2 separate regions of the Homo sapiens genome follow, and region 2 is linked to region 1. Evidence: fine-mapped expression QTL. Tissue or cell type: whole blood. Region 1 holds a variant in brackets; the other region holds the start of a gene. All regions are shown on one strand. Distances are from middle to middle.

The links. PIP is the estimated chance that this variant, and not a neighbour inherited with it, causes the effect.
Region 2: it holds the start of MMAB, and the variant in region 1 is fine-mapped to the expression of MMAB in whole blood (TOPMed, PIP above 0.99).

Annotation. Positions count from the first base shown.
Region 1 is chr12:109,507,152-109,511,542 of GRCh38, reverse strand. It overlaps UBE3B (ubiquitin protein ligase E3B), which reads right to left. Exons shown (of 28, transcript NM_130466.4): 15 at 3,808-3,979; 16 at 1,829-1,947; 17 at 1,085-1,199; 18 at 240-339. Among named protein-coding and RNA genes, the nearest start is that of UBE3B, 32 kb to the right of the region's middle. The variant G/A (reference allele first, on the strand shown) is at 2,117.
Region 2 is chr12:109,571,415-109,575,805 of GRCh38, reverse strand. It overlaps MMAB (metabolism of cobalamin associated B), which reads left to right and starts at 2,302. Exons shown (of 9, transcript NM_052845.4): 1 at 2,302-2,459; 2 at 4,096-4,157. The coding sequence starts at 2,326. MVK (mevalonate kinase) reads right to left here and starts at 2,012. Exons shown (of 11, transcript NM_000431.4): 1 at 1,933-2,012; 2 at 906-997. The coding sequence starts at 983. RefSeq lists silencers at 1,772-2,001, 2,022-2,151 and enhancers at 1,911-2,410, 2,411-2,912.

The DNA.
Region 1 (4,391 bases):
GGTCAGGTCTCCGTACCTGGGCTGCCACTCCACCAGCATCGCCAGTTCACACTGTCTTCTCCAGCTCTGTACCCCAGCACTGGGTGTAACCTCACCAAAGTAATAGCAACCACCGTTTCCTTGTGCTGAATGAATGATCCCACTTAGTCACCTCCAATTGCCATAGCAAGGATGGAAAGGCAGGAACCACGTGGGGGAATAGAAAGACACATCGGGGCCCAGCTCTGAGTGCAACTCACGTTTTTGTGAGGGATGACATGTGGGATGTACTGCAGGATCAACTGTGCCCGTTTTCTGTCCCTGTCGAGTTCTTGGAAGAGCACGCTAGGTTTGAGATCCCTTGAGAAGAAAGACATGGGTTTGGGAGAATTAAAAGAAGGAAACCATCCTCTAGTGTGAGGCTGGGAAATGACACCATGTGGGCCACATGCAGGGTGCTGTCTGTTTCTCAAGAGTCTGATGGGAACATGACCATACTCATTCATACATGTATAGCCTATGGCAGCTTTTGTGCTACAAGAGCAGAGTTGAGTAGCTACAACAGAGACTGTCTGGTCCACAAAGCCTAAAGTCATCTGGCCCTTTACAGAAGTTTGCCAGTCCCTGCTCTAGTGCCACAGCTTCAGCAGTTGCCATAAAGCTTGAACTCATTGATAAAAATGCAGATACATGCCTATGTTCAGTTGTGATAGGAGGATTTCCCCCACCCCATTACTCTCCAAAAAACCTAAAAGCAGTTTTTACTCTAGTAATTCTGCTAATAAAAACTGCCTTTTAACTCTCATGCTCTGTTGCTCAGCTCAGCTAAAAGACCTCTTCCTAGTTTGGATGAGAAATGTATGCTAAATATAATCTGGCTCTGTTGCCATTAATTAACTCTAATCATATTTGGTGTAAACATCTCTTAACAGAAGCGTCCTGACAGGTGCTTCACAGGGACAGCAGCTCTCTTTACACAAATGAACAGACAAAATGAAGCAGAGGGAAAAAGTCCTCTCTGCCCTAGAACATGAGAGCTGAGTGCTCGGGCAGCGTGCCGGAGCAGGCTGGCTTCCATGGAGCCCTCCTCACCCCTGGAGCTCACTTTCGCAGCCAGTGGTCCTCGGGGGTGAAGCGCCGCCGGCAGTCCCGCTCGTACAGCACCATAAGCCACCCGTGGACAGACTGGAACAGCTCCAAGGTCTCACCCTTGGCGTTCTCTGTGGGACAAACAAACAGGAAAGTCAGAGGAGGAGTCAGAGCCAGAGAGCAAGGGGAGGACAGCTCTTGTCTTCCGCAGTTGTCATCAAGTCCTTGATCTCCCTCGCTCTGAATTATATGTGGAACCGACAGAATTAAAAGGCACCCTGGGTAAGTGCTAAGTGTCTGCAGGGCCTGAGTACCTCTCAGACAAAATCACTCATGCTGCCTCCCACTAGTGTGTCATCCGAAGGGCCTTTTAAGTCTAAGGAGCTTTGTCCTGAGCAATTGGAGACACTTCGGGAGGTGGACTCTCATCTCAAGTGTGCACTGGCACATGTTTTATCTTCACGGAAATCAAATGGAAGAATCAACAGGAGATTCAGGGCAAAATTAATCATCATTAATAATCCTCGACACATACATGCAAATCCTGAAGGGAGCCTGGGAGAGCAAGACTTCTATAACCACACCACTATCTTAAGAAGTCACAGAGAGTGAAGAAAGAAAATTTCCAATTGTGGGAATAAATGTGCACCTTCTATTAACTTGGAGAGACAATAAAGCTAAGAATCAGTTGATGCCATAGACTCTTCGGCCTCCCTGGGTGCAGCATCAACCAAACAACAGCAGACACCTTTTCTCTTACCTACAATTCCATCCCAGATCATCTTAAACACAAAAGAATTCAGGAAAGAGGAGATAGTGACCAGCTCTTCCAGTTTGAATGAAATCTGTTCTTCATAAACTTCAATGTCATCAAGGATTCTAAATCAGAGAGAAAATTACCCACAATTCCACACTGAAAAAAGGCGAAGAGAAAAAAAATCTGTACTGCTTACTAGACAATAAACGAGGTTGAGAAATAAGCTTTATCTTGTAGAGATACTTACTGTAAAATCTACAGATAAAATGATATGATATCATCAGGGGTAGG[G/A]GGAAAGGGGAGGGAGAGCCTTAGGACAAATACCTAATGCATGTAGAGCTTAAAACCTAGATGACGGGGTGACAGGTGCAGCAAACCACCACAGCACATGTATACCTATGTAACAAACCTGCACTTTCAGCACATGTATCCTAGAACTTAAAGTAAAATAAAATAAAAATAAAATGAAAAAAATGATATGATGTCTAGGATTTGCTTCAAAATAATGTGGGAGAGAAAAGCAGGTGGGCATTTGGATGAAGCAAAACTGGCTGTGAGGTGGTACTGTTGAAGCTGATAATGGGCACATGAGGGTTCATTATATTATCCTTTCTACTTTCTATTAATTTGAAATCGACCATAGTAAAAAGTTAAAAAATACAATTAAGAAAAAATCTGTACTCTATATTTTTCTTATTCATAAGGATCTGACTGTGACACTTTCTTAATTCACACCTCAATTCACGCCTTCCTTATTCATGTCTGCATATCAAGGAACATTGACTGAGAGTCGATGTTTACTGAGGAAAGCTGCAGAATCTTTTCGATATCTAAGACACATACTAGTGACACTTAGCAGGTACTTAGTAAGCATTTGTGAGTAAATGAATAAATGTTTGAAAGAACATATGAATAAATGAGCCATTTAAGACACAGCTCTATCTGAACATTTCCTAACACTGCTCCATACACTAGAATAAGATTCACTCTTGGCTTACCCCCATCCAGTGATTAAGGATGTCTTCACCAGCAGCTAGACCCCTGCTCTTGCCTCCAACTGCTCAGTGAGTTCTTCCATGATCCTCACCCAATCTGCCACCTACATGTCCCTGATCCTCTCCGGCTAAAGTCTTCCAGCCTGAACATAACTGCCTGAGGTCCATTGTATCTTATAATTCTTCACCAACCTTTTGGGAAAAGGTGGAATGAAAAGAATACCAAACACACAAGATGCATAAGCTTAAAAACCAAAGGAACTAAATGGGACTAATGTTTGTTAATTTCCCACTCTGTGCCAGGCACTGCACTAAGTATTTGACGCTGTTTTTTTCACTTACCCTCTATTGAACTGGTAATATTCTCTTCATTCTAATGAGGAAATAGAGACTCAAAGAGGTTAAGAAACTTGCTCAGGGTCGGCTTGATAATAATAAGAGCCAACAAGTACTGAACTCATCCTATGTGCCAGGGACTGTGATAAGCACTTTGCAATAATTATGTCTTTTAATCCCTACCATGTGCCTAAAAGGTATGTGCTATTGTCATTCCCATTTACAGATGAGTCAACTGAGTCTCAGAGAGGTTGAATCCGTGATCCCTTGCCCAGGGTGTCTCAAGATCTGCTTAGCAAGGATCTGCACCCTGGCTCTGACTTTGGAATTTTCCAGGAATCTAGCTAGCACAGTGAATAAATGGCTGAGCCATGATCTAAACCCATCTCCAGGAGACCCCAAGCCACAGCCAGTGGTACTGATCAGCTTCCTTGAAAGGATGGGAACTTTTAACTCCCAGGCCCCACCCTAACAACTGCTGAACATTTACTGCACACTGCTCACTTGGTAAATGGCTAGTTCTTACAATGCCCTGCCACACAGGTCCAAATGTTTGCAGTAATCACATTAGCAATTACTTCCTTACTGACACTGTATTTTGGTCTCTCCATATTCTAGGAAAGGAATTCAGTCCCACAGCAGTCAACCTACGTGATGAGGTGCCGCGAACAGTCACAGAACAGCATCAGCATGGCCAAGAGTTGCTTGGACTCTTCAGTGTCATTGTTCAGGCATTCCAAGAAGAGCTTTAACCCTCCGTGGGGCCCGAGCTCACAGATAAATGCCCACAGTTTGGGAAGCAGGTCATCAAGGTAAGTGAGACCTGGAAAAAACACAGAGAAACCCAAGCTTCAGGTGGAGACTCCACCTGGTCTGTTATTTCTCCTATCCAGTGGGGAAACAAAACACTTAAACCTATCCATGAACATTTAATGTGCGTGAAAAGAAGGTGGGATTATGGAGAAAAGCATTATCACCACGAGAGTAACAATGATAAGAGCCAGTAGTCAGTGGGTGCTGACTATGTGCCAGGCACCATTCTAAGCACTCCGTATGTATTGTTTGCTTTCCATTTTCTGAAGCCCAGTGTTATCCCCATCTTATACAGGAGGAAACTGAAGCACAGAAAGGTTAAATAATTGGCCCCAAATCACACAGCCTGTATGTCAGAGCCAGGAATAGAACTCAGGTCTGACTTAGCATTTATGCTTTAAATCAGGGATCAGCAATTTGTT
Region 2 (4,391 bases), 64 kb before region 1:
AAATCCACTTTGCCTTCTGCCTGCAAAATTTCAGAGGTTCTCAATACCAAGGAATCACTTCCCCATAATCACCATGTTTTCAATGAGAAATATAAGAACATAAAGAATAGCAGTGAGAAGCCAGGTGTGGTGGCTCATATCTGTAATCCCAGCACTTTGGGAGGCCAAGGCAAGAGGATCACTTGAGCCCAGGAGTTTGAGACCAGCGTAGTGTCAGACCACGTCTCTACAGAAAAATAAAAGAAAAAAATTAGTGGGGCATGGTGGTACACACCTGTGGTCCCAGCTACTTGGGAGGCTGAGGTTGGAGGCTGCAGTGAGCCATGATCGCAAGATTGCACTCCGGTGACAGAGCAAGACTGTCTCAGGAAAAAAAAAAAAAAGCAGAGTGCAGCAGAGGTGGTTTCAGACAGACTTAGGTTCACACCAAGCTCTACCAAGGTATATAGGACTTGGATCAAGTTACCACTTCTCTCCTAAGCCTCAGTTTGCACATTTGTAAAATAGGATAATAAAAGGGTATGCCTTGGGGGTAGCTGTAAGGGTAAAATGAGATAATGGATGTTTTCAACTCCTTTGCTAGATCATCCTTCCAACTTCTAAATGTCTTAGTGCCCCGGAGCTCAGTTCTCAAACCTCTTTCCTTCTGCATCAAAGCTCACTCCTAGGTGATCTCATTCCACTCACAGGGCTTTATATTATAATCATCTTTTTGCTATCATACCGAGCGAGGCCCAAGAATCCCTTCAGTGGGCATAAGAAATCTTTTCCTTGCCTGGCTGGGGAGAACCTGATCTCTCTGATCTGCTCCCAAGCTGTGCCTCAGGGTGTCCTTTTACCTTCTTACAAAATTAGCATCAGGGAGAAGGGGTACCCAATCCTTAAAGGCTCTAACGGCTTTGTACCTTGCCATGTACCACGGCATGTTCTCCATGAAGGATGACTTTCCCCGGAGCAGACACCAGTAGGACTTCTGACAACATGGCTCCTGGGAATCCTAAAAGGGAAAGCCAATGAGAAGAGCAAAGATCTCTAGATGTCAGAACCAGCAGGAAGAGATCTTAGAACACCTAGTTCAAGCCCATCATAATAACAAAAAAGGTAGTTACCGTCCAGCACTTGCTACGTACCAGAAAGGCAATGCAGGAGTCAACTGGACACATCCAACAGATCTGGGTTCAAATGCCAGCTCTTCCACTCCCCAGTGATGTCATCTTAGTTAACTCACTTAAATGGCTAAGAACCTCGGTTTCCCCACACGTTATATGGAGAGAAAATAACCGTACCTACCTCGGTGGATGTTAGGAAGGTTAAATTAACGCAAGGGAAACACTTGGCGGTGTCTGGCACCTACTAATCATTCAATTACTGAGAGCTACTTATTACTGGCTCTGTTCTTCGTTTCAGCTTTTACAACTACTACTATTAAAGGTAGAAATTACATGAAATCATGGAGCAGAAAGAACTCTTTGCTGGACATTTAGGCTGTTTCCAATGTGTCACAATTATAAACAAGGCTGCAGAAAACACCCAGTACGCCTCGTTTTGCACACTTAAATGAGTATTTCTGCAGGACAGAGTCCTAGAAAGGAGCTTGCAGGGTCTATAGGTGTGTGCAATTTACACTTTTATACATAACGCAAAATTATCCTCCGCTTAAGGCTTTACGTAGATTACCTTACGCTAAGATTCAGGTGTACTATGAGCTAAGTACTATCGTGATCCCCATTTCTTAGAAAAACTGAGGCTCAGAGCGGGGAATCCCCTTGCTTGTCAAGCTCAAAATCACGACTGTCAGATTGAGGTCGCCGATCCCTCGGGGCAAGACTCTCAGAGCTGGGTAAACTGAGCCACAGAAGCTGGACGCCTGGCTCAGCGTCGTCCTGGGTCTAGGACCTCGCGCCGCCCGGCCGCCCGACCCCGGCCTCTCACCTGCCGCCGCCGCCGCCTCCCCGGCCGCCGCCCCTCCGCGCCGAAGCCGGAGCAGCTCCCCAACTCCCACAACCCAGAGCGCCCGTGCCTCAAGGGGAGGAGGCGTTGTACTTCAGGCCAGCCAATCAGAGCGCGCGAGCCCGGAGTACCTTTACCAATAGGCTTGAACATTGGTCAATAGGTGTTGCAGCCAAGCCGACACGGGTTTTCCCGCCCCGCTCCTTCCGTTAAACCAATGGGAAACAAGTCCCTGGGAGTGTCCCGCCCTGGGGTGAGAACTGCGAACCAATAAAAATTGAAACCTGAGCGGTGGCGCGGCCAGCTGTGGGTGGAGTCACCCCGCGGACTGGACGGGAACCTGGCGGGGTCAGGTCCCGTCAAGCAGCCTGGCTCATGGCTGTGTGCGGCCTGGGGAGCCGTCTTGGCCTGGGGAGCCGTCTTGGCCTGCGCGGGTGCTTCGGCGCCGCCAGGCTCCTGTATCCCCGTTTCCAGAGCCGCGGCCCTCAGGGCGTGGAAGACGGGGACAGGTGAGTGGCTGGCGGGAAGGGCAACTCGAACACCTGCCGTGAATCGTGGTGTCGTCGCCATGGGTACGTCACACCGCCGTGAGGTCACCGCGGCAACCGTCAGGTGACGTCTCCACGCTGTTCTGACGTCACCATGGCAACGTGGGCCACGTGGGCGCCAGAGACCAGGTAGTCTTTGCCTAAGTCCCAATGAAGTCCCGCTATCATCGGGCAGGGCAGGGCATATCCCATGTGGGCCAGGAGGGCTCTCGACTCAGATTGTGACCAATCTCCAAAGCAGTTTATTCCCCAGGTCCCAGATACACCAGCACCTTCTAAAGATGGCTTTCCTCATATTCCTTGAAACTTGCACCTCAACCCAGACCTCAGAACCTCTAGAGTACCGTGGATTAATAATGGATTAATTTAGTTCACAGATCCAGGAAATTAACCTTCGAATGGGCTTGTAATGTCACATTTTAATTTTGAGCTATGTCCTTGAGTTGTTTACATTGTTTTTTGAAAATGCCACTTTTTGAGCTGTATTTTGGCAATTCTTCATCTCTGAGTACACTCGAAGCCTCATACTATGGAAGTGGCTCAGGTTTCTTTTCCTGCAAGAGGCCCTGAGTTGGTGGAGTATAAGATAAAAATTTGGGTAGGATAGAGTTAAGAGTCCTAGCTACTTGGGAGGCTGAGGCAGAGGATCACTTGAGCTCAGGAGTTCAAGGCTGCAGTGAGCTATGATCATGCCACTGCACTGCATTCCAGCTTAGGCAACAGAGCAAGACCCTGTCTGTGAACAAAATAATCATAGGCCAGATACGGTGGCTCACGCCTGTAATCACAACACTTTGGGAGTTTGAGGCAGGAGTATTGCTTGAGCTCAGGAGTTCAAAACCAGCCTGAGCAACATGGTGAAACCCGTCTCTACCAAAAAAAAAAAAAAAAAAAAATTAGCTGGGTGTGGTGGTATACACCCGTGCTCCCAGCTGCTCGGGAGGCTGAGGTGGGAGGATTGTTTGAGCCTGGGAGGCAGAGGTTGCAGTGAGCCTAGATCGTGCAACTGCATTTCAGCCTGGGTGACAGAGTGAGACCCCATCTCAAAATAATAATAATAATAATAAATAAATAAATAATTTCGGTAGGATAGAAGTTACAGTTTGTGCTCTGGTCTAGGACAGTTTTGGGCATCCCACTCCTGCCTCTTCTTGGATGGTCTAGGAAGGTGTCTCATCTGAGCCATAGTTTCCTCCTCAGTAAAATGAAGAGAATAGGTGTTGGCTACCTTTGGGGTTGTGGAAAGATTCCAGGATAATTCCAGAAGATAATGCCTGTAAACTACTTGGCACAGTGCAGGGACAATGGCAAAGGATCAATCAAGTCCTTCAGCAAATATTTATTGAGCATCTTTGTTGAGCAAGGCATTACATCAGCTACTCTACACACTCTGTCATCCAGCTCTGGTCTTGCCCACAAAATGTTTGCTATTAGAAAGGATCTAGGGGAAAGAAATCAACAAGAGATGACCATCTAAGCAGTAAGGGGTAAGTGCTGCCTCTGAGGTTACAAGCAGCAAGCTGGGACCCTCTGAAGGAGCTGACCCTCTGTGTAAGCCATCCCCACTCACCAGATACTGATGTTTATTTCTCATTAGGCCACAGCCTTCCTCGAAGACACCCAGGATCCCCAAGATTTACACCAAAACGGGAGACAAAGGTAGGGTGGGGACAGGTGAAAAATGCAAAGAAATACTCATGGCATACACCATTTTAAAGTTCTTCCAAATTCTTTGCAGCCACTTTAAAGTATAATATACCAGGCGCGGTGGCTCATGCCTGTAATCCCGGCACTTTGGGAGGCCCTGTTGGGCTAATCATCTGAGGCCAGGAATTTGAGACTAGCCTGGCCAATGTGGTGAAACCCCATCTCTACTAAAAATACAAAAATTAG